7 linked regions of the Homo sapiens genome follow. The protein of the gene in region 1 interacts with the protein of each later gene in a pairwise test. Each region holds a gene or a part of one and is shown in the gene's direction. Other genes may lie near its edges.

What was found.
Region 2: the proteins of ELOVL4 (region 1) and INSIG2 interact in a two-hybrid assay, tested with the Homo sapiens proteins (one large-scale study listed by BioGRID).
Region 3: the proteins of ELOVL4 (region 1) and FAM177A1 interact in binary tests that used the Homo sapiens proteins (3 or more experiments, as listed by UniProt).
Region 4: the proteins of ELOVL4 (region 1) and LPAR3 interact in a two-hybrid assay, tested with the Homo sapiens proteins (one large-scale study listed by BioGRID).
Region 5: the proteins of ELOVL4 (region 1) and TMEM44 interact in binary tests that used the Homo sapiens proteins (3 or more experiments, as listed by UniProt).
Region 6: the proteins of ELOVL4 (region 1) and SMCO4 interact in a two-hybrid assay, tested with the Homo sapiens proteins (one large-scale study listed by BioGRID).
Region 7: the proteins of ELOVL4 (region 1) and CLCA4 interact in a two-hybrid assay, tested with the Homo sapiens proteins (one large-scale study listed by BioGRID).

What each region holds. Positions count from the first base shown.
Region 1 is NC_000006.12:79,937,121-79,941,570, reverse strand, and holds part of ELOVL4 (very long chain fatty acid elongase 4), read left to right. Parts: intron 1-4,450. UniProt on the Homo sapiens protein: Catalyzes the first and rate-limiting reaction of the four reactions that constitute the long-chain fatty acids elongation cycle.
Region 2 is NC_000002.12:118,094,462-118,098,911, forward strand, and holds part of INSIG2 (insulin-induced gene 2 protein), read left to right. Parts: intron 1-1,957; 5' UTR 1,958-2,095; coding exon 2,096-2,339; intron 2,340-4,450. UniProt on the Homo sapiens protein: Oxysterol-binding protein that mediates feedback control of cholesterol synthesis by controlling both endoplasmic reticulum to Golgi transport of SCAP and degradation of HMGCR.
Region 3 is NC_000014.9:35,049,057-35,053,506, forward strand, and holds part of FAM177A1 (protein FAM177A1 isoform 1 precursor), read left to right. Parts: intron 1-4,221; coding exon 4,222-4,395; intron 4,396-4,450.
Region 4 is NC_000001.11:84,812,905-84,817,354, reverse strand, and holds part of LPAR3 (lysophosphatidic acid receptor 3), read left to right. Parts: intron 1-3,183; coding exon 3,184-3,509; 3' UTR 3,510-4,450. UniProt on the Homo sapiens protein: Receptor for lysophosphatidic acid (LPA), a mediator of diverse cellular activities. May play a role in the development of ovarian cancer. Seems to be coupled to the G(i)/G(o) and G(q) families of heteromeric G proteins.
Region 5 is NC_000003.12:194,623,414-194,627,863, reverse strand, and holds part of TMEM44 (transmembrane protein 44), read left to right. Parts: intron 1-1,873; coding exon 1,874-1,967; intron 1,968-4,168; coding exon 4,169-4,335; intron 4,336-4,450.
Region 6 is NC_000011.10:93,536,312-93,540,761, reverse strand, and holds part of SMCO4 (single-pass membrane and coiled-coil domain-containing protein 4), read left to right. Parts: intron 1-4,450.
Region 7 is NC_000001.11:86,553,196-86,557,645, forward strand, and holds part of CLCA4 (calcium-activated chloride channel regulator 4 precursor), read left to right. Parts: intron 1-4,450. UniProt on the Homo sapiens protein: May be involved in mediating calcium-activated chloride conductance.

The sequences.
Region 1 (4,450 bases):
TTTAAAAGAATGATATTTTTTATGAGTTGGTCATTAATTCAGTTGCCGTTCACTAAATTTAATGAGTAAATCAGGCCATTAAGTCATTTAGAAGCACAAAACAGATAAAAAATGAAGATTCCAAGACATATAAAATCAGATATGATTGTTCTCTTCATTGTCTGTGCAGAAGCATTGCCTTGTGTGGAAGTGAGGAGGGCAGTGTGGTATAGTGAATGGGAAGAATTCTGGACTGGGATTTAGATGACCTAGGTTTTAGTCCTGGTCTGCTGCTGATTTGCTATGAGAGTTTGGACAAGTTCCTTTGCCTTCCCAATTCTCAGCATTGTTCTCTGTAAATTAAGAGGGTTAAATTAGGTAATCTGTAAGGTCCTACCTGACTCTAAAAGTCTAGATATAGATATCACTTTCTTTATTCTTGGAATAGGTAAAGCAATTTCAAATAAATATACATTTATCAGGGATTCAGAAACCTCATTCTTTATAGTAAATAAAATTTTTTTCCAGCAAAACTGTTATCAACACTGCCTAAATAGTACAAATAACAGATTCTTATTTAGTTCTTTTTACTTTTTAAAATTTGCTTTATAAGAAATAGGTAGAGGAATAGAGCAACAAAAGTATACAGATATTTAAGCGTCTGTTTTGAAATAACATTGCTTTTGTTGCTGTAACACTATACCTGTTTAATTATCTGGATTCCTTGAATAACCAAGAGCCAACTATTTTATCGAAAACAGTAGCAATAATATTAAAGAATAAAATTATCTCAATTATATATTACATTTATTTTGTGATACTCAGCTTTTGAGGATGGCATATTATGTCGTTTTAGGCAAGTTATTCATGACTCTTTGGGTCTCTTATTTCTACCTGTGCTGTGAGAGGGTTGAACTACATAACCTTTAAGGCTTAGTTTATTGAATCCTTATAACATCTCCTAAAACAGCAGCCTAGATATCAGTCTAAACTCAGTCTTCATATTTTTCCAATAGAAAATGTGAAATTTTAACATACATCATTACAAATGATTTTCTATTATAAACACTTTATATATGAGCATTTTTTACTTAAGTTTGGAAGTATGGCTTAAGATTTTTGTAAAATTGATAAAAATGTGTAGGTCTTACAGAAGAGAAAACAAAAGAAACTAAATGGTTTTGGTATAAGTATGTTCCTTAACTAATCAAAATACAAATTTTTAAAATCTTTTGCCATATATTTTTCTTCATGAAATATTACCATTTGTAAACAAATACCTTAGAATGATGTTTTATTTATGATTATATTGTATTAGAGTAAAATTTTTGGAATTTGAAAGACAAATGCATTAGTCCACTGAGGAAATCAGTTACTCACTGTCAGGTATAATCACATAAAAGCATTTGTGATTTTGAACTGCAGAATTCCAAGAAACAAGCTTTTCTGTTTTCATTTTTATTCACTTATCAAACAAAAACTTGAGCACAGATGTGTGTTTTTAACTAATTTTATATATTTTTTCACACACGTACATAGCAGCATTATTCACAGTAGTTAAGAGGTGGAAACGACCCAGATGTCCAGTGTTGGATAAATGGATAAACGCAACGTGGTATATACATACAATGGAATATTATTCAGTCTTAAAAAGGAAAGAAATTCTGACATGTGCTACAACATAGATGAACCTTGTTACTAAGTGAAATAGTCTAGTCACAAAAAGATAATTATGTATGTGGCATTATGGTTCCACTTATATGGACCCTCTACTGTAGTCAAATTCGGGCTGGGCCCAGTGGCTCATGCCTATAATGCTAGCACTTTGGGAGGTGGAGGCTCAAGGATCACTTGAGCCCAGGAGTTCAAGACCAACATGAGCAACAAAAAAATATTAAAAATTAGCCAGGCCTGGTGCCATATGCCTCTAGTCTCAGCTATTGAGAAGGCTGAGGGAGAAGGATCACTTGAACCTGGGAGGTGAAGGCTTCAGTGAACCATAATTGTGCCACTGCACTCCAGCCTGGGTGACAGAGTAAGATCCTGGCCCAATAAATAAATAAATAAATAAATAAATAAATAAATAAAGTAGTCAAATTAATAGAAACAGAAAGTAGAAAGATGTTTGCTAGGGCCTGGGGAGAAGGAGAACTGATGACTTGTTTAATAGGTATAGAGTTTCAGTTTTTCAAGATAGAAAAGTTCCAGAGAGTCACAACAATGTGGATATGCTTAATGATACTGGACTGTACACTTAAAAATGATTAAGATGGTATATTTTATGTTATGTGCTTTTCTTTTTACCGCAATGCAAGAATTTCATATATTATAAAATTAATACATTAGCACCTGTAGAAATGATCTCTTTAGTGCTCAATGGTAAAACAGTCAATTCTTCTTTATTTTTTCAATTTAAAGTAAAATGACTTTATAAAGAGACTATATAGCTGTTGGCTTAAAAAAAATCCGAGTGGCTAGAAAGTAGCAAATAACAAGAAAGAAAACTTTAGCTTTGTATTTTGCTTTATGGTTTTACAAACAACTTCACAATAACTCTGGGAGATAGGCCTTGAAGGCATTTTTTCCATATATTTAGAAGTCTTTGAGATTTACAGAAGTTACGTAACTTTTGTAGGTGGTCACTATAGTGCAAATGAATGTGCATGGGTTGTTTTGTCCCTAGCCCAGTGCTCTTGTCTTCCCGTCACACTAGCCAAGCAAGAAAGAAATAATCAGGCCTGTAATCTGTGTTTCTCTTTTATTTTACCTTTTCTTTTATTGTTATCTACAGAGTATCACTGTTTAGAATACTAAATCTGAACAAAGTCATAATATTACCAAAGATCATCTAAAGAAAGACATCTAAATATTCAAAGGTGCTATAAAGGCTGGTGTATGAGATTAAACTACAAAGTGATATTTATTCATATACTATATACATACACAAATATGTGAATATATGTAGAATACAAAATGCGATATTTAGCCTGAGAAGATGGTTAACTTCCATATGACGGTGTAGGATTGTTTAAAAAAAGTGTATTCAAAGTGAATTATGAAAGTATTTGCCAAATTGCATAATACAAGAGCTAGAAACTTGTTAGTGAAAGGATAATGAAATTCATTCAGGACTAACCGTATTTTACCCAGTGGCTATTCAACTTATAGAACTGTTAGAGTCAAGGGAAGATTTTGGCTAAAGTTCCCATTAACTCACACACTCACACACTCTAATGGTATCTTCCATCTTTTTTGCTAAAGGGAAACACCATTTCAATTTTCTTAAAGCTTTGAGTTCATTGGCAGCATTGGGTGGATGGTTGAACTTGGAACTCCCAGATTAAGTTTTATGACTACTTTTTCTGAGAAGCCCAGCAAAATTGGAAACAAGGAGAGAAGGAAACTACTTGTATTCTGATCTTGGCTTCCAGGAAACGAGGCAACATTCTTCAGCTCTCTCTCTCGAGATATATTTTCTCCCTTGAAATTGTCTCCTTTTCCCTTATGAACTGGCTTTTATGAATAGGCCATTTTCTGAAGTCATGAATTTGGACATCACCTGCACTTGGGCATGGTGGCTCACGCCTGTAATCCCAGCACTTTGGGAGGCCGAGGCGGGTGGATCATTGAGGTCAGGAATTTGAAACCAGATATCGTCTGCACATGATGAAACTCACTACCATTTATTGAGCATTTAGTATAGGACCATTTTAAGATGCTGTAGTACTGTATTTGATACACCTTATATTTAATTTTCAGATCATCTCTATAAGTTAGATATTATTTAACCATCTATAGATGAAGAAATAGACTCAAAGCTACATAGCTAGAAAGTAACAGAGTTGGAATAGGATCAAGATCTTTCTCCTTCCCAACAGTGACCTTTTTATAATGCAACATAGCCTACTTATTTATTCAATAAATACCATTTTATTGCCCAGTAATAATAGTGAACATTTATTGGATGCTTACTAAGTGTCAGGCACTGTGTCCAGTGTTTTATATGTATTATCACATTTAGTCCTCATATTCCATTGGGCTCGGTACCGTTATTATCCCCATTTTCCAGGTGAGTAAACTGACTTTCCCTGAACCTGATTCATCTAATACTAACCCTGTCAAATTAAATCCCAGGGTAACCAGCCTTCAGCTCGAATCACACATTGATTCTCTCATCTGTGTTAACTGTCTTTTCTCCTTTACAGCTTCTGAATCTGTTCTTATTTTTTGCTTGCTCTAGGAAATTTTATAATTTCTCTCACTTTCTACCATTATTATGATCTCTATTCAGGCAAACTTGCAATGAAAATTCTTTTTCCCTCTGCTTTTTAACTCTGTCCTCCATTCTTTCAGGCTCTTGGGTAACTGTTATAGAACTGAGTTAGAGGAGACATCTTGTTTTAACCCTGTGCTGAATGACTCTCAGGGCACCTGCTCCCTCATACCTTGAGACATTGCAGCTTTCCCCTCT
Region 2 (4,450 bases), on another chromosome or scaffold:
CAGCAAGGAATGGTCTGCAGGATCAGGTCAGGAGGAGATGTTTCAGGGCATTTTCAGTTGGTATTTAGAGTATGTTTTCCCATGAATTAGCTATACTGTGGATTAGTTTTTTTAGTCCTTTAAGCCATAGAGTTCAATTACATTATAGACTAAGTAGGTCAGTGAGGACTAGCTTGGGAACAGAATTTCCTCTTGAATGTTGAACACAGAGCTTTGATGTGGCATAGCCCCAGTAAAAAGGCCCGTTGTCTAAGTGTTTATCACATGGAACTGACAGGTTGTGGAGGTTACTAGTACTTACAGATATTCTCATTTTCATACTAGTTATTTGTAATTCAGCCCCATTCTCTGCGGTTTACATGAGGGCTTTGTTCCAAAATTCATTCAAAGGTTGTTTGATACTGGAAAACTCAGAGGAAATGTATAAATTTTATGTGATGATTAGGAGCTAGGTTTGCTCTCAAAAAGGCCTACTTTACCCTATATGGTTTGATTCAGAAAGAGTTAACCCAATTTAATTAAGCAAATATGATTATGTGGAGCTCCCACTGTGGGCTAAGCAGGAACTTTTCTGGGTGCATAGGCACAGTGATATTAATATAATAGTGAATAAGACCTTCATAAAACATTTACAATCCATAAAGCAACTATACCTTTAATTAGAAAGTAGTCATTATAAGTGCTACACTTTTTAAAATAAACTGCTTTTGGATTGAAGGAAATATCATTTCTGTACCGATTTATGAAAGTGCCAAAGATATATTGTTGGATGGGATAAAAGTAAATTACCTGTGTAGTATTTTTCCCATTTAAAAACTGTTAGTATTCATAGAAAACATATCAAATATGTGACAGTTTGGGAGACTGAACATCATGGTAAGAATGAGGGCTTTGGAGTCAGACTGCATGGTTTTGAATCCCAGCTTGGCCTCTTACTGGAGATGTGAACTAGGTCAAGTGACTTAACCTTTCTTTGCTTTTTTGCGTCACCTATAAAATGTACATAATAATTGCACTTACCTCTGAAGGTTATTGTGAGGATTAAATGAATTACCACATGTCAGGTGCTTAAAACAGCACATAGAAAGCCCCAAAAGGAAAGATCACTTTGGTTAGAGGAATGAACAAGTACCTAGACTGATTGTAGTAGCAAAGTTTTAGGTTTTAGGAGTCAGGGACCAAGTGGATAAAACTCCTTAGAATCTAGCCATTAGATTGTTCTTCATTTTCTTCACTTCCTTTCTTTTGCTTCGTCCTCCAGCTTTCTTACAATCCCTTCTGTGATTGCAACAAGGGCAGACTGTTGAGACAGGAGTGGGATACAGTTGTGCCCCTGGGGAGAGTGAGTCAGGTCTGGTTTCTGTGTTTGGTGTATATGTAGGTGTGTGCGTGGTGGTCTGGTTTTGTAGAATGTTTTTGTGCGGATAACCAAATAATAAACATTAAAGCGGGTTATTTTGTTCTTCTGTGGAGGTTGTCCTTGTAAGCAAGTAACATTTTATTGCAAAATATACAGCGTCTTCAGTCAGAATATGCTTATCTGTAAAATATAAAATACAGTATTGTAACTGATAGGCTTAGAGATTTAGGGAGAAGAAACAGAGAGCAGGGTTTTACCCTCCAGATTCTAGTGGAAGTGTCAGATTACCTGTTCTGCTTTTCTCAGAGATGGAGCAAGCTGTTTCTACTATGATTCTAACCTTCAGGTCTCTTAGGTCATGTTTTCTGTCCTAGGAAATGTAAGGGTAGTACTTTATTTTTTATTACGTCTTGCATATAAAAATACTTTTAAAACTTTTTCTTATTCAATAAATAACTGTTAGTAATTTGAATAAATTAGTATACAAGCTTGTCATTTTCTTATTTGTCCATTTAAATTAACTAGTATTGAAATCAGTAAAATTACAATAATCATGTATTAGATACACATTAATTTCTTTTTTCTTATCTCTTGCAGGATTTCTGGTAGGTCCTACTTTAGGACAAGATGTGGTACCGTTGAAGCGTCAGTCTTTGATTCACAGACAGTTGAGCTTTTCAGCTGGGAAGCCTTTCCATTTTTTTTTTTTTAACGGCTTTCTGAACCTATGAAACCATGGCAGAAGGAGAGACAGAGTCACCTGGGCCCAAAAAGTGTGGCCCATATATTTCATCTGTCACTAGCCAGAGTGTGAACTTGATGATTCGAGGAGTAGTGCTATTTTTTATTGGAGTATTTCTTGCATTAGTGTTAAATTTACTTCAGATTCAGAGAAATGTGACGCTCTTTCCACCTGATGTGATTGCAAGCATCTTTTCTTCTGCATGGTGGGTACCCCCATGCTGTGGCACGGCTTCAGGTATGTGTAGGATGTTTCTGTAATGCTTAGAAAGGAAATAGGGTAAATGAGTATGGACGTTGTCTGAGCAATAAACCTTTTTAAAAAAGAAAATATATTTATTGAGATATAATTTAGGTATAATACACTGGACCCGTTTGAATTGAACAACTTGATGTGTTTAGGCAAATGCGTACAGTCACATGACCACTGCCAATCCAGCTGTGGAACATTTCCATCACCCTCCAGAGTCTCTCGTGTCCTCTTGCAGTCCATTCCCCACCCCCAGCCTCAGGCTACCACTGATCTGCTTTCTGTTGCCATAAATTATTTATCTCTGTTCTAGAATGCAATATAAATGGGCTCATAACGTATGTACTCCCTTCTGTCTCATTCTATCTGTCCTGTAAACTTTTAACATTTAATTCTGAAAAACAATCCTGTTTCCCTTAGGGATGAAGCATTTAACCCCTTAATTTTGTTCTTTCTTCAACCCATCTCATCTAAGTGTTATTTTAAGTTATTTGGATGATGAGCACCACCATTTGGTTTTAAGGGTTTGATGCATGTGCTGTAGTCTTGTTTCTGAAGTAATAAAAACTTGAATAATTAAAGTTTAAAGCTTCATGTTGTATTTTTGTAAATGCTTTTTTCCTTGGTATCTTGTTTTTATAAGTACCTTAGAATAATAAATATTTAAAGACATCTATAAGGTAGACTCTCTTTGCTTAAAATTAGTATCCTATTAGTTACTTTAGATATTTTTTTGGTGGTGGGCAGTGTGTAATGCATAGAGTAGAGCATTTCACAATACTTTATTGCTGCCATACTTCCACAATGGATAGCACTTTAGTGTTTTCTAATGACCAAGACCAATAGATTAATACTGTTTTTAATAATAAAGTAATAAAAGGAAACCATAATCATGTGGTAGAAGATAATTCTGATTGAAGGAGAAAATTGCTTTTTAAATACCCATTTGGTGTCTCATACTTAACATATATGAATGAATATCTTGCAACATAATATATGTCCTTCTTGGCTTCCATCCAAGAGCGGGAGGTTGAAGGATGAGGTTGCGCTTTACGGAAGTGTTAGAATGGCCTTGTGAAACTTGCTGGACAATTATAGAATCCTGTTGCACAGTTAGAGGGGCACTGTTGTAGTAAGGCTTCAGTGTTTATATACTGATGTCTCACTATTACATCGTTCACATTAAAAGTGAAGTCATGAAGGCAGTGATTCTTAGTTTCCCAGGGTTATCATTCTCCAAGAGAAAAGGCAAAAAATAGTCCAAATAAAAAACAAATTAAATTGTATCACTCTGCTGTATGTACTGGTCCTCATGCATTTTTCTTTCATTTAAATTCAGAAGAGAAAACGTTTTCTCAACAACTTTTCTAGTTCTTTGTTTCTTTTCTTCTATAGTATAGTCTGGCTGCCAGTAGAAGCTTTTTGGGACATGGAAGAGCATACATGTCTTTTCAGGATAGAACAGAGGGAAGGGAAACTGTTGTTTATTGAATGTCTGCTAATGTGCTAGGTACATCCTGTAATCCCAGGGTTCTGTAGAGCAACTTTGGGAGAGAGATGTTTGGCATTGTGCCTGTTATGGGGAGATGAGGACACTCACTGAGATGAAGAAAGAAAACCAGTGAGCCCAGGGTCCCAGAGCCAGTGAGTGGTGTGACTGGGTCCACATGTCACATGCTGGGGAAGGGAAAAGGAAGCTACTCACACTTTTCCCCCTACTCAGGATGCCACTTTTCAAGCCTCCAGACTGGGTGCCAGACCTAGATGGAATTCCCTGGCGTGTGTTGTGCATTTGGGCTGGGGCAGGAGAACTTAACTGAGGTTTCATTGTACCTCCACTATGAAGAGTAACAGGGCTGCACCTGCTGTCTTGTCCTTCTGCCCCTTTAATGTCAGCACTTTTGCCATAAACTTACATTTTAGGAAGGAAAATTTCAAATGCTAATACCACAGTTCAGCCACTACTTTCCTTCCTGTTCCCAGCCACTAGGTTTGTCACACTTACAAACTTAACCTCATTTGGGGAATTTGCATTTACATTTCTTGCTTAAGTATTTCTTCTGAAAGCAGTTTGTACCATAAGGTACTTGGGCAAAAGA
Region 3 (4,450 bases), on another chromosome or scaffold:
ATTTTTGTATTTTTAGTAGAGGTGGGGTTTCACCATCTTGGTCAGGCTGGTCTTGAAGTCCTGACCTTGTGATCCACCTGCTGCCTTGGCCTCCCAAAGTGCTGGGATTACAGGTGTGAGCCACCGCACCCGGCCTCCTGTTGTGACATTCTATCCAGCAGCTTCTCTGAATAGACTTTTAACCAGAATCTCAGCCTCAATGTTTTTAAAGGAGTTAAAATTTCAGTACCACTCAGTGATTGATTTATTTGGTACCTCTGTTACCAAGCACTTACTATGTGCCAGGAACTCTAGGCTGAAAGATATAGCAGTACCTACCCCCATGTTGCTAATAGCCTAGTTGGGGAAGATGACAAAGAATAAATTCTAAGTCTAGTATGTGTTTTAAAGAAGTCTGGGTGCCATGGGAGTATATACAAAAAATTGCCATTAAAACCAGATCCTGAGCTGGGCAGAGTGGCTCACACCTATAATCCCAGCACTTTGGAAGGCTGAGGCCAGTGGATCACTTGAGGTCAGGAGTTCGAGACCAGCCTGGCCAACGTGATGAAACCCTCATCTCTACTAAAAATAGAAAAATTAGCTGGGCATTATGGCTCACGCCTGTAGTCCCAGCTACTCGGGAGGCTGAGGCAGGAGAATCGCTGAAACCCAGGAGGTAGAGGTTGCAGTGAGCCAAGATCGCACCACTGCATTCCAGCCTGGATGACAGAGCAAGACTCCTTTTCAAAAAAGAAAAAAACAGATCCTGAGAATAAAGATAAGCACATTTATAGTTTGGTTAACTATAAAATGGAGTAAAATGTTAATTGACATGGTACCTCATAATTTCCTGGTGTTATGAAACTATCTTTCAGATCTTTGGGGTTCGTTATGGAATTTGCATAATTGGCAGTGAAATTTTTCTTACTTGCAGATTTATAAAATGAAGCATTTGGAAAATTCACAGTGTAACTTTTTTTGTTTTTTGAGACAGAATCTCACTCTGTTGCCCAGGCTGAAGTTCATGGCGCGATCTCGGCTCGCTGCAACCTCCACCTCCCGGGTTCAAGCAATTCTCCTGCCTCAGCCTCCTGTGTAGCTGGGATTATAGGCACGCTCCACCGCGCCTGGCTAATTTTTGTATTTTTTTAGTAGAGGTGGGATTTCACCATGTTAGCCAGGGTGGTCTCACACCCTTGACCTCAAGTTGTCTGCCCGCCTCAGTCTCCCAAAGTGCTGGGGTTACAAGCATGAGCCACCATGCCCAGCCACAGTGTAAATTTTATTTGTAATTATTGGATTTCTGGTTCAAGTTGATGTTTGAAAAATAAAAAAAGAAAAATATTTTAAAAATATAATTATTGGGAATTTTGTATCAAATGATTTTCTGGTTGGTTTTACCTGTTAGTGCTTCCTTCATTGCCCCCCACCCCGCCTCCCAAATAGAGGTTGGAATCATTATCCCTCATCTGAAATACTCTAAAATCTGAAGCTTTTTGAGCACTGACATTCCTTCCTTTGCCTGTGTCATAGAAGGAAAAAATTAAGCCAATGAGAGATTGCTAGAGGTAGCAGTGAGAAGCCTCTACTGTCTTGGGGGTGGGATAGGGTGGGGCATGGTGGTATACTGTGAAGGATCTGAGCTCTCTATTCACTGACTGGAGCTGTTGCATTGACATTAGATCCATCCAGTTAGTAGGATGACTGGAGATCTAACTTAGCTCATCTGTCTTTCCTTTGCATAGGAAATTAAGGGATCCAAAAAGCTGAGTCATGGTCCAAAAGGAAACGTTGATGTCAGGACAGCCATAGCCAAATTTTATCTCAAGGGTAAACATGAGACTGGGTAGGGATGGCTGTCAGTGCCTGGGGATTGGTGGGGCTTGGGGGTAGGTAGAAGAAAAGTGTCCTGGGTTAACTACTTGTTTATTTTTTTCATGGACACAATAAATGACCTGATCTTTCCTTGTTAAGGGCTGGGATTTATTTGAACCCTCAGGACAGGCTAGAAAGAATTGTGACTTTTTTTCATGTTAATACATAGGTAGCCTATGTTACCAAATTTTATTTTTTAAGATAGTTTATTATTTTTATTTTTTGAGATGGAGTCTCGCTGTGTGACCCAGACTGGAGTGCAGTGGCACGATCTCAGCTCACTGCAACCGCCACCTCCCGGGTTTAAGTGATTCTCATTCCTCAGCTTCCCGAGTAGCTGGGACTACAGGTGCGTGCCACCACGCCCAGCTAATTTTTGTTTTTTTAGTGGAGACAGGGTTTCACCATGTTGGCCGGGCTGGTCTCCAACTCCTGACATCAGGTTATCTTGCCTTGGCCCCCCAAATTGCTGCCATTATAGGCCTGAGCCACAGCACCCAGCCTTATTTTTATTTTTTTGAGACAGTCTGGCTCTGTTGCCCAGGCTTGAGTGCAGTGGTGCGATCTCGGCTCACTGCAACATCCACCTCCTGGGTTCAAGTGATTCTCATGCCTCAGCCTCCCAAGTAGCTGAAATTACATACGTGTACCACCATGCCTAGCTGATTTTTGTATTTTTAGTAAAGTTGGGGTTTTGCCATGTTGGCCAGCCTGGTCTCGAACTCCTCACCTCATGTGATCCTCCTGCCTCAGCCTCCCAAAGTGCTAGGATTACAGGTATGAGCCACCACGGCTGGCCTGTTACCAAATTTTCATGATCTGCAGTTCAAATCCTGGCTAATGACTAAACTTACCTTTGGGAGGTAAAAGGCAGAGAAGAATCATATCTGTTTTCTAAGAAGGACCTTAGAAGATTAAGATGAAACAATGTATAAAAACAAAGTAGCTTATACTTGCATAACTGGGCAGTTCACTGTTTTTATCAGTATAATCCTTTTTTTGCAATAGCAATTCAAAGAGCTTTTCCAGTGGTTGAACAGCAGTCATGGGTTTAAATTATGTTTGCTTATAACCACAAGAATCTTTATAGAGAACAAAATGTTTGTACTCTGGACTATCCTAGAGAATTCTACGAACATAGACTGTAATCATGACATTACTGTAGTCCTGTATATGCAAAAAGAATAAAAGCCCTCCTTTGACTACTCCCTTGCCTTCTGCTTCTCCCCCATCTTAGTTTCTACCCATGGGGTAACCACTGTTGCCAGATTTTTCTTCACAATTGTATGTACTGTACCTTTTTGAAATCTGGAAGTTTAAACTTCAGGCAGTTTTCTTTTTTTTTTTCCGAGATGGAGTCTTGCTCTGTTGCCCAGACTGGAGTGCAGTGGCGCGCCTTCCAGGTTCATGCCATTCTTCTGCCTCAGCCTCCCGAGTAGTTGGGACTACAGGCACCCGCTGCTGCGCCCAGCTAATTTTTTATATTTTTAGTAGAGACAGGGTTTCACCGTGGTCTCGATCTCCTGACCTTGTGATCCGCCTGCCTCGGCCTCCCAAAATGCTGGGATTACAGGTATGAGCCCGCGCCTGGCCCAACTTCAGGCAGTTTTATTAGGAGTTTAAACTTGAGGCAAGAGGACAATGAAAAGAAGCTCTTCACCATCTCCCACTATATATATAGATATATATAGTGTAAATATATAGGAGTAAAATTTGTATTAGAATTCCAGCTCAGGCACAGTGACGTATGCCTGTAATCCTAAAACTTTGGGAGGCTGAAGTGGGAGGATTGCTTAAGGCCAGTAGTTGGAGACCAACCTGGGCAACATAGCCAGACACTGTCCCTATAGAAAAAAAAATTAGCCAAGTGTGGTGGCATGCTCCTATAGTCCCAGGTACTCAGGAGGTGGACACAGAAGGATCACTTGAGGCCAGGAATTTGAGATTGCAGTGAGCCGTGATTGCACTACTGCTCTCCAGCCTAGGCAACAGCCAGACCCTGTCTGGGGGAAAAAAAAATTCCATAGACTACTAAAGTTTAAGAACTTGTGAAATCTTTTTACTATCAGAAATCTCTTTTGTTACATATGTATTACTGGCCAAGACATCTGGAAGTTCAGAGATACAATGCTGATAATCTGCTTTCCAGATTTGGTTTACAAATGGTGGGTTTTATTTGGTCTGCCATAGTCTTGACACTGTACTCCAGCCTGAGCAATAGAGTGAGACCATGTCTCAGAACAAACCAAAACTGCTTAAAGATTTATTTCTTTACTACAATAAACCTACCAAAAGTTTTTCACGTGTAATGAAAGAAAATTAATCTCACTTGAAACTCATTTTCTTAAAATATCGTTGATATAGATGAGTAACGAAAGAGGCTTTGAAAATGTAGAACTGGGAGTCATAGGAAAAAAGAAGAAAGTCCCAAGGAGAGTCATCCACTTTGTTAGTGGTGAAACAATGGAAGAATATAGCACAGATGAAGACGAAGTTGATGGCCTGGAGAAGAAAGATGTTTTGCCTACTGTTGATCCGGTAGGTTTGATATTGATGATTCTTTCCTCAGTGGGCTTTGTTTTGATTTATTTTT
Region 4 (4,450 bases), on another chromosome or scaffold:
GAGAATGTGGAGATGTCAGGAACATTCAAACAGGTAACTGGACTAATTCTTAAAAGTGAGGGGTGTGTGTGTGTGTGTGTGTGTGTGTGTGTGATAGATCCTGGAAAATATTTATCACTTAGTTGCCTACCAATCTACATAAATCCAGAAGAAAAAAACTAAAAGGAATGTCTTTTGAGTATTTAGCCTCAATGCTCAGACTATGACTGCTGGGAACCAGCAGGGTTCAAAGAAGAGTTTGTGTGATGCCCAGATTACTTTAAAAAAAAAATTCTCAGCATTAACAAATATGAATGAGTGTCCAGAGGTACGCATCTGGGAACTAGTAGATAAAATTCAATATGTGTCTCCTGGAGAAAAGGCTAAAGAAAGACAGAAAGCGTTAACTGTCTTCAAAAACCTGAAGGGCATCACATAGAGAAAGCACAGACTTTTCCTGGGCTATTGCAGAGGATCACACAAAACAAATGGAAGAGTACAACAGGCAGAGTTTGGATGCAAGCCTTCTTTTCAAGTAAATGAAGATATTTATATATTTTTTTGCTTTTTACTTTTTTGGAGATGGAGTCTTGCTCTATTGCCCAGGCTGGAGTGCAGTGGCACAATCTCGGTTCACTGCAACTTCGCCTCCTGGGTTCAAACAATCCTCCTGCCTCAGTCTTCCAAGCAGCTGGGACTACAGGTGCCTGCCACCATGCCCAGCTAATTTTTTGCATTTTAGTAGAGACAGGGTTTCACCATGTTGGCCAGGCTGGTCTCGAACTCCTGACCTGGGTGATCCACCCACCTCAGCCTCCCAAAGTGCTGGAATTATAGATGTGAGCCACCACGCCCAGCCTAAATGAAGTTATTTAAGAGAAGAAACCATTGTTCAGCAGTTGAAGAGCCTCCCTTGACCAGGGCATTTCCTTTGCCTGGATTGTTCTGAGATGTACAAAGGGAAGGCCTTTTTCCTATGAATGAAAGATCAGGCTAAGCGGCTTCTGAACTCTTTTCCAAGTAGGAAACTGCCGAATTCTGTGAAACTGTGGCTTTTAACTCTCCATAAAACTCAAACAAATTTGACTTGTTTGTTTCTCAGACACAATTATCGGGTGGTATGGCTAAAAACTTACTAATATGAATTCTCAAGTTGGTAGTTGCAAACTTGGCTGCCCATCCAGTTCCTTCACTTGTTTCAAACCAGTCTGAATAAAACAAAAAACCAGTCTGAATCTGTCACATTGATTGCACACCCACTAACAAGTTCTGACCCACCACTAGAAAAACTCAGACCTAGCCTAAAGTCAGTCCTCAGTTTACAGCTGAGGAAGCTGAGCCCAGCGCAATGACATGGGTCTCCCAGAGTTGTACAGTAAGTGAAGAATTAGAACCCAAATCTCTGATCTCTTATCTCCAAGTCCAGTTCTTTATTCACATATATCAGCCAGACCGAAAATAATAATACAAGGTGGAGAAAAAAGGGAACCACTGCTGAACCGTAATTATGAAATAAGGAATTCAACCCCCCTGCTAGCTACTAAACATATAGATATTTTTTGTGGAAACAGAGCACCTCATGATAACTGCTGCTCAGTGAACCCACCACAGTGTTGGGTACCACTTTCCATGACCTCTGATCCTCACAACTACCACCTCACATAGTTGGGTTTATTAACTTTATTGTATAAAGGAGGGAATGGAGGCTGAGAAAAGTGAAGTAATTCCCATAATTCGGGTCACTCATAGGTTGAGCTGTGCATACATGTCTGACCCCAAAGTTCGTGGCTCTTCCCTGCCTTACACTGCCTCTTTATAATCCTTGTCTTTCCCTGCTTGGTATTATATCTCTTAGAAGTAAGATAAAGCAACAAGAGAAATACTATGCAGAACTAATTCTAACAAGTAGAGTAGTTGGTGATATCATCTATAGACTTGCTTGTTTGTCGTCTTCTCTGTTAGTATTTTAGCTCCCTGAGTGCGTGGCCTTCACCTCACTCACTGTCTAGTACAGCTCCTGGCACATTGTTAGCTTCAGATGAATATTTATGAGTGGACAAGCAAGTGCATTTAGAAATGACAAGGACATTCGCCGAAAGCAACCACATCATACTACAGAGGCGGGTCATATAGTGGCCCAGGGCACAGCCTGTGGAGAAAGACGGCCTCTGTTCAAAATCGTGTCTCTTAAGAGTTATTTGATCATAGGCAAGTTACTTAACTTCTCTTGTGCCTCGGTTTCCTGGGGATAATAATAATGCCAATGTCATAGTGTGGTCCTGTGAGTTAATCAAGGAAAGCGTTTGCACCAGTGCCTCGCTTATAGTAAGTGCTGTATAAAGATGAGTCGTTATTGCTATCTGAGGTTATGATAATAGTAGGGAAATAGTGGACCCATGTCTTAATGGGAGAAAAATATCATGAAATTTAGAGATAAGGTAAGTATGATGCTGTGGCTAGAGACTCAGAAGAGACTACGGTTCATATTCAATTGCAGAGTCTGAAAAGTAGATTTTTAACTATCTCATCATGAAAGATTTATTTCTGACCAAAAAATCTAAATGTAGAGCAGATGATTATGCAGATGGCCCGTGAATATGTCAAAAAGAATATAGTGCTTACTAAGCATCCACATGAATTTATGAAGAATGAAATTTATGAGCAGGTGATTTGGTTAAACTACTAGAAGAATGCCGTAGACTCATTGTGTCTTATTTTCAAGAGCACATTTAGAAAATCTGATTTCTGTAACAGCAGAATGTAGGGTGAAGTATGGGAGCCCTGGAGTCAGAGAGTTCTCCTCTCATCTCCCCCTAGAATTGGGCCTTGGTTTTCTTATCTGTCCAATGTGGATAATGAGTGCAACAAAGCCTCCCAGTGTGGTTCAGAGAACTAACGGAGATCATGCATGTGCACTGCCTCCTAAGCAGAATGTAAATGTGAGTCTCTCATAATCACAAGACCTGGGTAAGCAGAAAAGAAAGTGAAATGAAATGTGATTGATAGTCAAGGAGGTTCCCACCTATTTGCCTGTACCAAGCGTAGGTCTCAAATGCTCAGATGGTAGGTGGAAGTTTGCCTTGCAGTTGTCAAAACAAATCATGAGGGCCCCTTGATGCCACTGGCTAAAGGCTGGGAGAGAAGAAAACCTGAATAAGTCCCCTAAGGTCTGAGCATCTGTTGCCTCCTCTTCTCTCCTTGCAGGGGCGTTTGTGGTATGCTGGACCCCGGGCCTGGTGGTTCTGCTCCTCGACGGCCTGAACTGCAGGCAGTGTGGCGTGCAGCATGTGAAAAGGTGGTTCCTGCTGCTGGCGCTGCTCAACTCCGTCGTGAACCCCATCATCTACTCCTACAAGGACGAGGACATGTATGGCACCATGAAGAAGATGATCTGCTGCTTCTCTCAGGAGAACCCAGAGAGGCGTCCCTCTCGCATCCCCTCCACAGTCCTCAGCAGGAGTGACACAGGCAGCCAGTACATAGAGGATAGTATTAGCCAAGGTGCAGTCTGCAATAAAAGCACTTCCTAAACTCTGGATGCCTCTCGGCCCACCCAGGCCTCCTCTGGGAAAAGAGCTGTTAAGAATGATTACCTGTCTCTAACAAAGCCCATGTACAGTGTTATTTGAGGTCTCCATTAATCACTGCTAGATTTCTTTAAAAAATTTTTTTTCATAGTTTAAAAGCATGGGCAGTAAAGAGAGGACCTGCTGCATTTAGAGAAAGCACAGAAACGGGAGAGGTTCGGCGGGTCCCTGCTTGTCCTATGAACTGCTCAGAGCTCCTGTCAGTCCAGCTGGGCCTTCTGGGTTCTGGCACCATTTCGTAGCCATTCTCTTTGTATTTTAAAAGGACGTTATGAAAGGGCTTAGACCAAAATAAATCATAATGTTACTTGAGCCACCTTATATAGCTGCTTGGAGAGTCTATGTAGTTCTTTCTGCATGCATTAAAAATGTTTAGAAATGCTTCAGCAATGGTGTTTTTTTCCTCAAAGAAACCATGGCCAGTAGCTAGGTGTTCAGTAGGAATCAAAGAAAAATCAGTAAGAGCTCCAGATTAAACCTGATTTTTAACTGAAGGAACATTCTGAGGAAAAATACTTAAAAGTAAAAAAGGTCAATGTGAAAACCCTTTTTGACCTGAAAAAGGCCTTAGTATGGTCCTCCATGCATGTGTGTGTATATGCATGTGTGTGTGTGTGTGTGTGTGTGTCTATATATATATATATATATATATATATATATATTCCTGTTTTTACTGATTTTTATTGATTTTGTTCAAAGATATCTGGGGATTGGATTGGGGAATGCTTAATCTGACTATTGAAAGAAACATGGATCCCTGGAGTATTTCAGATACGGGGTTACCGCCCCAGACTGCCTCCCGCCAGTCCACATTAGTTCTCATTTTCCCTCATGATGGTGAAAAACAGTGGAGAGCTAGTAAAGGGTTTATGCAGAAAACAAGG
Region 5 (4,450 bases), on another chromosome or scaffold:
GGGATTACAGGCGCACGCCACCACACTGGCTAATTTTTTGTATTTTTAATAGAGATGGGGTTTCACCATGTTGCCCAGGCTGGTCTCGAACTCCTGACCTCAGGACAATCTGCCTGCCTCAGCCTCCCAATGTGCTAGGATTACAGGCCTGAGCCACCACGCCTGACCTGTTTATTACTTCTTGTATGTGAACTCCCATTAGAGTGTCAGCTCTACAAGGGCAAGGATTTGTTCACTGCTGTATCCCCATCACTTAAAACAGCACCTGGCTCCTAGTAGGTGCCCAATACATAGTCATTTAGAGCTTTGACCCAGCCCCAGCTTATGTAGGGTGGCTGAGTCCTTTCCCAGGTAGTGGTGTAGGCTTTGGGGCAAGTGAGAAGTAGTTTCAAGTTTCTCAAAAGCGTAGGCCCTCAAACCTGTGTGGAAGGCTCCTATCCCAAAACACATATCCCCAGGAAAACCTGTTGTGCCCTCCTGCGGAGGCACCTCATGGGACTGGTCTTGGTCTTATGCCCATCCAGGTAGAAATGAAGGAAGGCAGCTCAGTTGGCAGAGCACAGATTTGGAGCATTCTAGACCCTGCTTCAAGCAGTGTTGTCTCAAAAGCAAATCACCTTTCATTTTGGGTGCCCATTCTCATTAGCTAATAGAATACAATAGGGCCAGCTGGGCACAGTGGTTCATGCCTGCAATCCCAGCACTTTGGGAGGCTAAGGCGGGCAGATTGCCTGAGGTCAGGAGATCAAGACCAGCCTGGCCAACATGGAGAAAACTAGCTGGGCGTGGTGGCGCGTGCCTGTAGTCCCAGCTACTCAGCGGGCTGAGGCAGGAGAATCACTTGAACCTGGGAGGCGGAGGTTGCAGTAAGCCGAGATCGTGCCACTGCACTCCAGCCTGGGCAACAGCAAGACTTCGTCTCAAAAAAAAAAAAATACAGTAGGTCCCAGCTCAAGTCCAATAATAATATTTATTAAAAACTACCCTGTCTCTACTAAAAATACAAAAAAAAATTAGCCGGGCGTGGTGGCAGGCGCCTGAAGTCCCAGCTGCTCGGGAGGCTGAGGCAGGAGAATGGCGTGAACCCAGGAGGTGGAGCTTGCAGTGAGCCGAGATCACGCCACTGCACTCCAGCCTGGGTGACAGAGCGAGACTCCGTCTCAAAAAAAAAAAAAAAAAAAACTTAACTACATACTTGGCACTACAGACCGTTTTGTGTTGACTCCTGGAATCCCAGCATCCTATGACATGAGTGTCCTCATTATTCCTGTTCTACAGATGTAGAGACTGAAGCATAGAGAGGTTAAGGGTCACCCATCTAGTAAGTAGCAGTGCCAAGATTCCGCGATTCAAACTCCACAATGCAAGTTCTTCACCGCTAACTCTACTATCAGAGGAGCTGGTGCCTTTAGAGGTAGTTTGCTTTCCCATAGACACTGGTGTAAACACTGCCCATGTACTGTCTCAAGTAACCTTCCTGACAGTCTTTGAGGGAAGCACTGTTAGTTTGCTCGTTTTACAGATGGGGAAACTGAGCGCCAGAGAAGCTCAGTGGGCCAAGGGTACACAGCAGAGACTGCCTCACGCAGTGGGAAGTGTGTGGAATAGAGCTGGAGGGCTGGGCTCTTATCCCAACCCTGCTGGTGGGCATCTGCATACCGTGGGTTCAGTCATGTAAACACCTCATCTCCTCATCAGCCAAGTGGACATGATAATGGACTTTTCCGGGGTTGGCAGGAGGTGTCCCTGGAGGAGTACGTAAGAAAGCACCGCATCAGTGTAACCCATGTGATACAGGGTCCCGGATGACAAACTCTGTAGGGGCTGAGGAAAGATGCTTGAATGCCAAGACTCTCTTCCCGTTTGCTCCCAGGTTTTCACTGGTGCCTACCTAGCAGCTATTGACTTAGTGAACTTTATGTTCATTCTCTTCCCAGTCTGTGGATCCAAATTCAAGTCTAATTCAGGTGAGTGTGTGGCTGTCTTTTCCTGTCTTTATTCACCCATTCATTCATCAGCACGCCGAATGCCTACTCCTTATCACTCCCAGAGCGGGCCCCAGCCAGGCACAAACAAAGGAGAAAGGCTGGGCGCGGTGGCTCACGCCTGGAATCCCAGCACTTTGGGAGGCTGAGGTGGGCAGATCATGAGGTCAGGAGATCCAGACCATCCTGGCCAACATGGTGAAACCCCTGTCTCTACTGAAAATACAAAAACTAGCCGGGTGTGGTGGCGTGCGCCTGTAATTCCAGCTACTCGGGAAGCTGAGGCAGGAGAATCGCTTGAACCCAGGAGGCGGAGGTTGCAGTGAGCTGAGATCGCACCACTGCATTCCAGCCTGGCGACAGAGCAAGAGTCCGTCTCAACAAACCTGGTGACAGAGCGAGACTCCGTCTCAAAAAAAACAAAAAACAAAAACAACCCCCCCCCCCCAAAAAAGAAGGAGAGTGTCTCATTAGGGCTGCCAGCTTGGAGGTGTGTGCACACTGTGGGCAGCCAGAGGGAGGGAAGGGCTGCTGGTGTCAAGGAAGCATGGGGCACTAGAGCTGGGGCCACAGGCAGGGCACTCCAGGCACACAGAGCAGCATGGGCAAAGGCTAGGAGGAGGTGTGGAGCAGGGCATGGGCATGAGCAGTGATAGCTTAGTGTGCAAGTTCGGGGTGGTCAAGCGAAGCTTCACAGCTACTGGAAGTGGATGCCAGGAATGGGCACAGGGCACCACCACAGGCACAGCAGGGGTCGGAAATGACTGGGCCAGGATGAGTGGCCCCGAGTGTCTGTGGTTGCGGCTTCTTGAGAAGGGTCAGCCATGTGCTTGGGCCCTTGTTCAAAAAGAGGGGATGAGGGGGCCGGGCATGGTGGCCCACACCTGTAATCCCAGCACTTTGGGAGGCTGAGGCAAGCAGATCATTTTGAGGTCAGGAGTTCGAGACCAGCCTGGCCAACATGGTGAAACCCTGTCTCTACTAAAAAAATACAAAAATTAGCTGGATGTGGTGGCATGCACCTATAATCCCAGCTATTTGGGAGGCTGAAGCAGGAGAATTGCTTAAACCCGGGAACTGGAGGTTGCAGATCGCACAACTGCACTCCAACGTGGGCAACAAGAGCAAAACTCTGTCTCAAAAAAAAAAAGGGGATGAACCAAGTGGTGTGGTGGCTCATGCCTGTAATCCCAGCACTTCGGGAGGCTGAGTTGGGAAGATTGCTTGAGGCCAAAAGTTTGAGGCCAGCCTGGGCAACATAGCAAGACCCTATCTCTACAAACATTTTAAAAAGTAGCTGGGCATGATGGTGCATGCCTGTGGTCCCAGCTGTTTGGGAGACTGAGGTGGGAGGATCACTTGAGCCCAGGAGGTGGAGGCTGCAGTGAGCTGTGATTGTGCCACTGCACTCCAGCCTGGGTGACAGCGAGACCCTGTCTCAAAAATAATAAATGAATCAGAGGGGGTGCTGCAGCAGTGTGTAGTGAAGCATGCCCTCAGCGGCTCAATGCTGCCCAGAAGAGAAATGCTCTTCTTAGAGTTTCTCAGGAGAGAGCTGGGCAGTGGCTTACACCCGGAATCCCAGCCACTCATGAGGCCAAGGTGGGAGATCGCTTGAGCCCAGGAGTTCAAGTCCAGCCTGGGCAACCTAATGAGACCTCATCTCAAAAAGAAAAAATAAACAGAATTGCTCAGAGGAGTGCCTATCTTACAGTTCAGGGACAAAGACACTGCTCATTGCTGTTTGTCCCGCGCACAGTTCCCGCTGGTGCCATCGCTGATTCACGGGTCGATGCTTGTACCACACTTGTACCGGTTCTGCTCTGTGGAGATTGTAGAAACCACCAGAGGATGGTGCCTTATCCTTAGGCGCTCTAGTCCAGAAGAGGCACTGCTGTCTGCACGCAGATGCATAGAGAGAAGATAATGTCATCTCTGCCTGAGGAAGGAGGGCAGCACGTTATGGGGGTGGGGTGTGCAGTCAGTGGTGGAGAGGAAAGACTCCTTGAAGAGGTGGCACAACTACAGGGCCCTGAAGGGTGGGGAGGAGCTGGCCTGCAGAATAATGTGGGAACCCGCTTCAGCATCATGTGGGGAGCTGACACCAGTTCTTCCCACGCAGCTATCTGATCTGACAAGGTCTGGCTTCCAGGAGCCATGTGGGATTTTGGTGTCTGTTGCAGATCGGGAAGCCCGAGAGAGGAAGAGGAGGCGGCAGCTCAGGGCCAGTGTGTTTGCCCTGGCCCTGCCGCTGAGCCTGGGCCCGTGCTGGGCTCTGTGGGTTGCTGTCCCGAAGGCTTCAGCCACCATCCGGGGGCCACAGCGGAGGCTGCTAGCGAGCCTGCTGCAGGTGAGGCTGGGCCACCGTGGGGAGGACTCGGGGTACTGCATGTCCTGCCAAATGCCCAGGGTGGGATGAGGCCGGGGCTAGGGGAGTGGGGTTAAGCCTTCCTTTGTTGGAAGAA
Region 6 (4,450 bases), on another chromosome or scaffold:
GATAAAAATCATAATCGTCACCATTTGAGCCCCTGCCATTGAGCAGGCATTGTGAGGTAGGAGTGAGCATCATTTTACAGGAGAGAAAACAAAGCCAAGAGATGGCACGACTCTGGTACAGCTGTCGTGCATAAGTTACTGATGATCTTTCAATCCATGTACCATTTTGTTAACAGTGGAAAAGGAATTCTCAGCTATCCTACAGGGTTGTGCTAGTTAAATGAGATACTGTATGTGAAGAGCAACAAGTAAACTCTTAACGGGCTCCCTAACCCAGCACATTTTAACATAAACACTTGTAGACTCTGGAAGCAGTGTGGTGAAGTGGTTAAGTTCAAGCGTCTTGGGAGTCTGGCAGGCCTGGGTGTAAATACTGAACCTGCTGCCTGACCTCTCTGAGCCTGGTTTCCACATGTGTAAAATCAGGATAATACTGTCTGTCTTATATTCAAGAAATGTACCCACTAATTGCAGTGGGTGCTGAGTAAAGATTGGCATCCACTCCTTTCCCTTGCACACAGGTACTTGGGTCAATGGGATTGAGTAAGTCTTTCAGCAGTTGTCCTCAGGGGGAAAAGGCTTAAAGTACTTTTTGTACTTATCAATGATTCTTCTAGCCTTTTTGCCTTCCCACCCTAAGCCCCAGCACGCGCAATGAATATTCCAGGGCCTGTGATTGTCTTGTCCAAGGGAATTGAAAAAATCGTAAGCCAGAAAGGACAGGTCTTTGATAGAAAGTTGAAAATGGATGTAGCTGGTTTCCCTTTGCCCATTTTGTGGCCTTCCTCCTTTTTTTTTTTTTTAAATTAATTTTGTTGGACAGGGAAAAGATACAGAATTCAGGGGGTTCTAGCTGGAAGGGGGCCCTGGAAGAGCCTATAGTATAGGGCAGCTAGAGAGAGGAGTGGGCTGGCTGACGGTCAAAGCTAGTTTGGTGTGGGGGAAATTTCTGTTAGATGCAGGATTTGGCTTAATATGGGACCAATTTCCATCTAGTCCTTTAAGGCCCTCTTTTGGGACTCTGAAGTTTTTGTGCTCCAGGCAGATTTTGACTGGTTGTGGTGGCATCACAAATGAGTTTCCATAGTAAATTGTATGCTGAAAGGAAATTAAATTCCAAGAGGGTGTTTGTTGTGACTGATGCCAGAATTTCCTCTGAGAATTTTATTAACATTCAGTCTGTGAAAGTACTTCTTAGTTCTCTGAAGATAATAATTAGGAAATAGTTTTTAAAAAGTAGAAGTGTCGTCTTTGTGAGCTTTTGAAATGTCATCTTCCTAAATCTTTGGAGCAAATGAGGCTCAAAACATCATAGAGACTTATATTTTAAAAGCATTTCTTCCTAAATGTACTGTTTTCCTTCTCTTCCTGTTCCTTCCGTCCTCCTACATTATTTTGATAATGAGTTAATTTTGGTTTCTTTCACATTGTGGTGGCCTAATTTTTAAATTTATGACCCTTCATTTTTAGATCTTGCATGTATTTTTTTTTTTTTACCCTTGAGTCAATTCTCATTGATTATGAAGAGCTGGTATAGCAAGATGGGAAAGAGAGAGGACCCTGGAGCTAGGTTGGTGAGATCTAGGCTCTTTAGAACTTGGATTCGGTCCTCACAGTAGCTCTGGGAGGCTGATCATGCTATTCCCAACACACAGATGTGGAAATGGGTGCAGAAACACATGTGTGTTCACATAGCCAGCAAGTGGTTTATCTAAGTGTCACTGCAATGATCTGTAGGACTCCAAAGCCCATGCTTCCAGCTGGAAAGGCAGGCAGGGGCCTTGCATGCTGTGCCAGGGTTGGGACTTAGTCCTGTAGGCAGAGAGGGTCAGGCCTGTATTCTAGAAAGGTAGCTCGGTGGCTGTCTGGAGTTTTGAAGTGAAGCAAGTAGAAATTAGGTGTAGAGAAACTAGTTCATTAAAGTAATGTCTTGAGAGATGAGGGCCTGAACAGAAGACATTAAGACAGTGGCAGTGGTTGCGGAGAAGAGGGGGCTTGTTGGAATCCATAGAGCTTAGTGCCTTTGGATACTAGAATTGCATCATCCCTTCCCATTTCAGGTCTGATGCCCCAGGGATGGGTGTTGGAGATGCTGACTATGTGCAGGCTAAAAGCAATCTCTGCAGAAACCAAAAGTGCCTCCTTTGGTCTCTGCTAACAGCTAGAGAAAGGTGGCTGAGCACAGTCCGAAAGGGCCTTCCCTTCCCTGTGCCACCCCAGCCTTATCATTCCTAACTTTCCAGGAGCATCGCAGAGAATGAAGTTGGATTCCTCAGACTGCATTTTGGGAAATGCTAGTCAAGGTTAGAAGTGTGGAAGGGAAGACGCCTTCCTGGGGTATTGTCTGCACACCCCTCTTCCCTGGTGGCACAGGGGACCCACCAGGGTTTGGTCCTCAGTTTTGGCTATTCCATAAGAGTTGATCTGCCCTAGATGGGGTTAACTTGTGGTCACCAAACTTGCAGGGGTTGACTGGGAAGCAGGAGTGGCAGTGAACATAATGGCCAGCCCCAAGAGGAGTCGAGGCCAGCCTCCTCTGACGGGTGCAGTCTCTGCGGGGCGCCAAGCCATGCTCAGGGAAGCGGGCATCAGAGCCCAAGGAGATGATTGGCTGGGGTCTGCATGTCCTGTCATCGGTAGGACGCACTGTTGCCATGTCAGGAATATACTGGTTTTGTGCCCTTTCCCCTAGTCAGTGCCAGACGTGGTCATAAACTTGCTTTTGGGCTTCCGTTTTTCCAAATTGTGCAACATCCCTGCCCTTCTGAGAGTTTGTGCTGGCTCTGGTCAGGCCGGAGGTCAGGTGGTCAGATTCTGGCTTTATTTGGGCTGTGTTCTCGCTGCGAGGAGGAAGCCAGGTTACCTCTGTTGGACCTGCCTGCTCCCAGCATCTCCAGCAACAAGCTGTCTCTGCCGGTGAGTCACTCCGTGCAAGAGTCTGCTCACCCACTTTCTGCTTGATGTTTACACTTTTCCCTCAAAGAGGGAACCTCTTCTTGTTCTGAGGGCACTTCTCGGCAGTCCCCTAGAGTGTCCAGTTGTTTCTTTTGTGGGGTAAGAACCCGTGCCAGACAGGTACATGTTTTAATGGGAGAAGAGCATTTCTGCCTGTGGATATGAGCTGTCATGCCTACCTCTTGAACATTATGTCCTGAGCAAAGCCCTTTTCTCGTTCTTTTTGCTTCGTGTTTAGGTGCGTGTTTGGGTGTGTTTGCTTTAATTATTACTGGGAAGCAAAAAAGATATTTATCAAAGGTTTAAATCTATAGCAGTGCCCCTGCAAGCAGAAAGAAGAAGTATATATTTAGCCAGGATATCATTGATTTATCACCCTTTTTTCCATTTTGTTCCTGTTTTGTTGGCAGGACCATCTGATTTGTATACTGGTTCAGTTTGGATTTCAGTAGTGAGTGTGAAAAGATTCCTGGGCTGTTTGCCGAAGTGGAGGGACTCAAATGCGTGGGCTTCAGGGCTGCCAGTCTTGGCTGTCCCTGCAATCCCAGGAGCCTGGCACATGGTGCCTTTGTCAGGAAGGTGGAGTTTGGCCAGGCCGTTTCTTTGGCTTTGCCTGGGAGCAGCTCTGCTGGTGACAGTGGAGGCCTCCCTCTGCCGTGGGAAAGGGAATTCTCTCTTGATTCCGGTTTTGGCTTATTTCTCATCCTATAGGGATGAGAGGGAGGAAGGCCCCAGAACTAGTGAGTTTTGGTGATGAGCAGGTTCAGGGTAGGACTGGTTTGCAGCTTCCACAGAGCTTTTACAGATGTTTTCCTTGCATCCCACATTTTCCTTCTTCCTTGTTAGTCCCAATTCAGTCTGTCATCAGTACTGCAGAAATTGGCTTGAACTTTGTCAGTCTTGGGAAGACCTGGAAGTGCAGCATAGAAACCTGTTCAAATTGGTGCAGCAATTTCACATCAGCATAAGTAGCTTGTTTTGGTGGTGGTGGTTTTTTAATCAGTTTAGGTGCTTTTTTTCTGAAATCATATAGGTAATATGTAAATGTATTCTCCTGCAGCCTGCCCTTGCATTTAAATAGTGCAGAAGGACACAGCAGACTTGTCACATTCCCCTTCACCCAGCACCCCTCCCCAGGTGCCAGCTCCTCCAGGTCCTCAGAGATAACTGGTGTTAGCAGTTGGATCCGTGTCCTGAAACTGTCAAGCCTGTATACACAAATACACTATGGTTTTCCTTCTTTTAGAAGCATGAATCTGATTGCATCATACTGCTTTTTTCACATAGTATATTTTCGAGAGCTTTTCATGCATGTAGCTCTTCTCTGTTCTTTTAATTTGTCTTTTATTTGCCTACAAAATATTTTCCAGTGTAGTTATGTCATAATTTATGAATTGGTCCCCTACTGGTAGACATATAAACTAACTCATTAGTTTTGCTATTATATCTTCATTCATACATATTAGTATGCACATGTTTCTCTAGGAGTAGAATT
Region 7 (4,450 bases), on another chromosome or scaffold:
GTGGCAAAGCTGCAGCTTCACCAGGGACATGTCCAAGAGGGACTGCCGCTGCAAGCTGTACGAGGACACGGTCTTCAAGCCGGCCAGGGCTCCCTCCACGTCTTCCTGGTGGCCAACACGTTTCCCCTTCAGTCCTCGTGCAAACATTGTGTCTTTGAGAGAACGGTTATCTGGGTCCTGCCGTCTCGTGCATCCCACACGAAGGCCACAGAAGAGGCGAGGCAGCAGAGATCCTCTATTCCAGCAAGCTGTCGAAGCCTTTGTCACGACGATCCTGTCCGACCCGCGAGTCTGCCCGCTGGGTCCTCTGCTCAGCCGACGCCACCGCCGCTGCCGCCTGCTTCCCGCCGCTCAGGGAGGAGCGCCCGCCAGCGCGGGGCCTTTACCCTTTTAAAACAATCAACTCTGCTTAGGAAACTAGCCATAGTTTTACTTCCCATAAAAAGCTTATGTGTCGGCCCGGGCATGGTGACTCACGTCTGTAATCCCAGCACTTTGGGAGGCTGAGGCGGGTGGATCACCTGAGGTCAGGAGTTCGAGACCAGCCTGGCCAACATTGCGAAACCCTCTCTCTACTAAAAAATACAAAAATTAGCTGGGCCCAGTGGCAGGCGCCTGTAATTCCAGCTACTCGAGAGGTCGAGGCAGGAGAATCGCTTGAACCCGGGAGGCGGAGGTTGCAGTAAGCCAAGATTGAGACATTGAACTCCAGCCTGGGAGACAGAGCAAGACTCTGTCCAAAAAAAAAAGTTTGTGTGTCAATGTATGACCCATAGTGTCTTCTTTTCTTTTCTTTTTTAACTTTTATTTTGGGTTCAGGGGTACATGTGAAGGTTTGTTGCATAGGTAAACTCATGCCATGGGGGTTTGTTGTACAGATTACTTCATCACCAGGTATTAAGCCTAGTACCCAATATTATCTTTCTGTTCCTCTCCTTCCTCCCAACCTCCACCCCCACTCTCAAGTAGACCCCAGTGTCTCTTGTTCTCTTCTTTGTGTTCATGAGTTCTCATCATTTACCTCCCATTATAAGTGAGAACATGTAGTATTTGGGTTTCTATTCCTGTGTTAGTTTGCTAAGGATAATAGCCTACAGCTCCACCCATGTTCCCGCAAAAGACATGATCTCATTCTTTTTTATGGCTGTGTAGTATTCCATGGTGTATATGTACCACAGTTTTTGTTTGTTTGTTTGTTTTGAGACAGAGTCTCCCTCTGTCACCATGCCCAGCTAATTTTTGTATTTTTAGTAGAGATGGGGTTTCACCATGTTGCACAGGCTGGTCTCGAACTCCTGACCCGAAGTGATCTGCCCACCGCGGCCTCCCAAGGTGCTGGGATTACAGGTGTGAGCCACCATGCCCGGCCCTGTACCACAATTTTTAATCCAATCTGTTATTGATGGGCATTTAGGTTGATTCCATGTCTTTGCTATTGTGAATAGTGCTGCTACAAACATTCAAGTGCATGTGTGTCTTTCTGGTGGAATGATTTATATTCCTCTGAGTGTATATCCAGTAATGGGATTGCTGGGTTGAATGGTAGTTCTGCTTTTAGCTCTTTGAGGAATCACCATATTGCTTTCCACAGTGGTTGAACTAATTTACACTCCCATCAACAATGTATAAGTGTTCCCTTTTCTCCTCAACCTCGCAAGCATCTGGTTTTTTTTTTTTTTACTTTTTAATAATAGCCATTCTAACTGGTATGAGATGATATCTCATGGTGGGTTTTTTTGTGTGTGTGTTTCTTTAATGATCAGTGATACTGAGCTTTTTTTCACTTGCTTGTTGGCCACATGTCTATCTTCTTTTGAAATGCATCTGTTCATGTCCTTTGCCCACTTTTTAATGCATTGTTTGTTTTTCTCTTGTAAATTTGTTTACATTCCTTTTAAATGCTGGATATTAGACCGGTGTTGGACGCATAATTTGCAAATATTTTCTTCTATTCTGTAGGTTGTCTGTTTACTCTGTTGATAGTTCCTTTTGCTGTGCACAAGCTCTTAAGTTTAATTAGATTCCACTTGTCAATTTTTGCTTTTGTTGCAATTGTTTTAGGCATCTTTGTTATAAAATCTTTGCCTATGTCCAGGATGTATTGCCTAGGCTGTCTTCTAGGGTTTTTATAGTTTTCAGTTTTACATTTAAGTCTTTAATCTTAATCTTGAGTTGATTTTTATACATGGTGTAAGGAAGGGATCCAGCTTCAATCTGCATATGGTTAGCCAGTTATCCCAGCACCATTGATTTAATAGGGAATCTTTTCCCCATTGCTTGTTTTTGTCAGCTTTGTTGAAGATTAGATGGTGGTGGATGTGCAGCCTTATTTCTGGGCTCTCTGTTGTGTTCTGTTGGTCTAGGCCTGTTTTTATACCAGTACCATGCTCTTTGGGTTACTGCATCCCTGTAGTGTAGTTTGAAATCAGGTAACATGATGCCTCCAGTTTTGTTCTTTTTGCTTAAGATTGCCTTGGCTGTTCAGGCTCTTTTTTATTCCATATGAATTTTAAAATAGTTTTTTTCTAGTGGTGTGAAAAATGTTGTTGCTAGTTTGATAGGAATAGCAATGAATCTATAAATTGCTTTGGGCAATATAACCATTTTAGTGATATTGATTCTTCCTATCGATGAGCATGGGATGTTTTCCATTAGTTTGTGTCTTCTCTGACACAATTTCTTTGAGCAGTGTTTTGTAATTCTCATTGTAGGAATGTTTCACCTCCCTGGTTAGCTGTATTCCTAGGTATTTTATTCTTTTTGTGGCAATTGTGAATGGTATTGCCTATTCGATTCAGCTCTGGACTTAGCTGTCATTGGTGTAGAGGAAGGCTAGTGATTTTTGTACATTGATTTTGTATGCTGAAACTTTGCTGAAGCTATTCATCAGCTGAGGGAGCTTTTGGGCTGAGACTATGGGGTTTTCTAGATATAGAATTATGTCATAATCAAAGAGGGATAGTTTGACTCCCTCTCTTCCTATTTGGATGCCCTTTATTTATTTCTCTTGCCTGATTGCTCTGGCCAGGACTTCCAATATTAAGTTGAATAGGAGTGGTGAGAGACAGCATCCTTGTCTTGTGCCAGTTTTCAAAGAGAATGCTTCCAGCTTTTGCCCATTCAGTATAATGTTGGCTATGGGTTTGTCATAGATGGCTCTCATTATTTTGAGGTATTTTCCTTCAATACCTACGTTATTGTGGTGTTGAATTATATTGAAAACCTTTTCTCCATCTCCTGAGATAATCATGTGGTTTTTGTCTTTAGTCCTGTTTATGTGATGAATCACTTTTATTGATTTGTGTATGTTGAATCAATCTTGCGTCCTGGAGATGATGCTTACTTGATCATGGTGGATTTGCTTTTTGGTGAGCTGCTGGATTCGGTTTGCCAGTATTTTGTTGAGAATTTTTGCATCAATGTTCATAAAGGATATTGGCCTGAAGTTTTCTTTTTTTGTTGGGTCTCTGTCAGGTTTTCATATCAGATTGATACTGGCCTCATAGAATGAGTTGGAGAGGATCCCTCCCTCCTCAAATTTTTGGAATAGTTTCAGTAGGAATGGTACAAGCTCTTCTTTGTACATCTGGTAGAATTTGGCTGTGAATCCATAAGATCCTGGGCTTTGTTTGTTTGTTTGTTGTTTGTAGGCTCTTTATTACTAATTCAGTTTAGGAACTTGTTATTGGTCTGTTCAGGGAATCAATTTCTTCCTGATTCAGTCTTGGGAGATGTATGGGTCCAGGAATTTATCCATCTCTTCTAGGTTTTCTAGTTTGTGTCTTTAGAGGTGTTCATAGTAGTTTCTGATGGTTATTTTTATTTCTGAGGGGTCAGCATTAACATTCCCTTCATTATTTCCAATCCTGTTTATTTGGACCTTCTCTCTTTTCTTATTTATTAGTCTAGCTGGTAGCTAGTGGCATATATAGCTTATAAATTTTTTCAAAAATTAGATCCTGGATTTGTTGATCTTTTGAGTGGTTTTTTGTGTCTCATTTTCTCATTTTCCTTCAGTTCAGCTCTGATTTTGATTATTTCTGGTCTTCTGCTAGCTTTGGGGTTGATTTGTTCTTGCTCCTCTAATTCCTTCAGTTGTAATGTTAGGTTGTTAATTTCGGATCTTTCTAACTTTTTGATGTGGGTATTTAATGCTATAAATTTCCCTCTTAAAACTGTCTTAGCTGTGTCCCAGGGATTCTGGTATGTTGTATATTTGTTCTTATTAGTTTTGAAGAACATCTTGATTTCTGCTTTAATTTTATTATTTACCAAAACAAAAGTCATTCGGGAGCATGTTGTTTAATTTCCATGTAATTGCATGGTTTTTAGTGATGTTCTTACTCTTGAATTCTATTTTTATTGTGCTGTGGTTTGTGAATGTGTTTAGTATGATTTCAGTTCTTTTGCATTTGCTGAGAATTGTTTTATGTCCAATTATGTGGTTGAG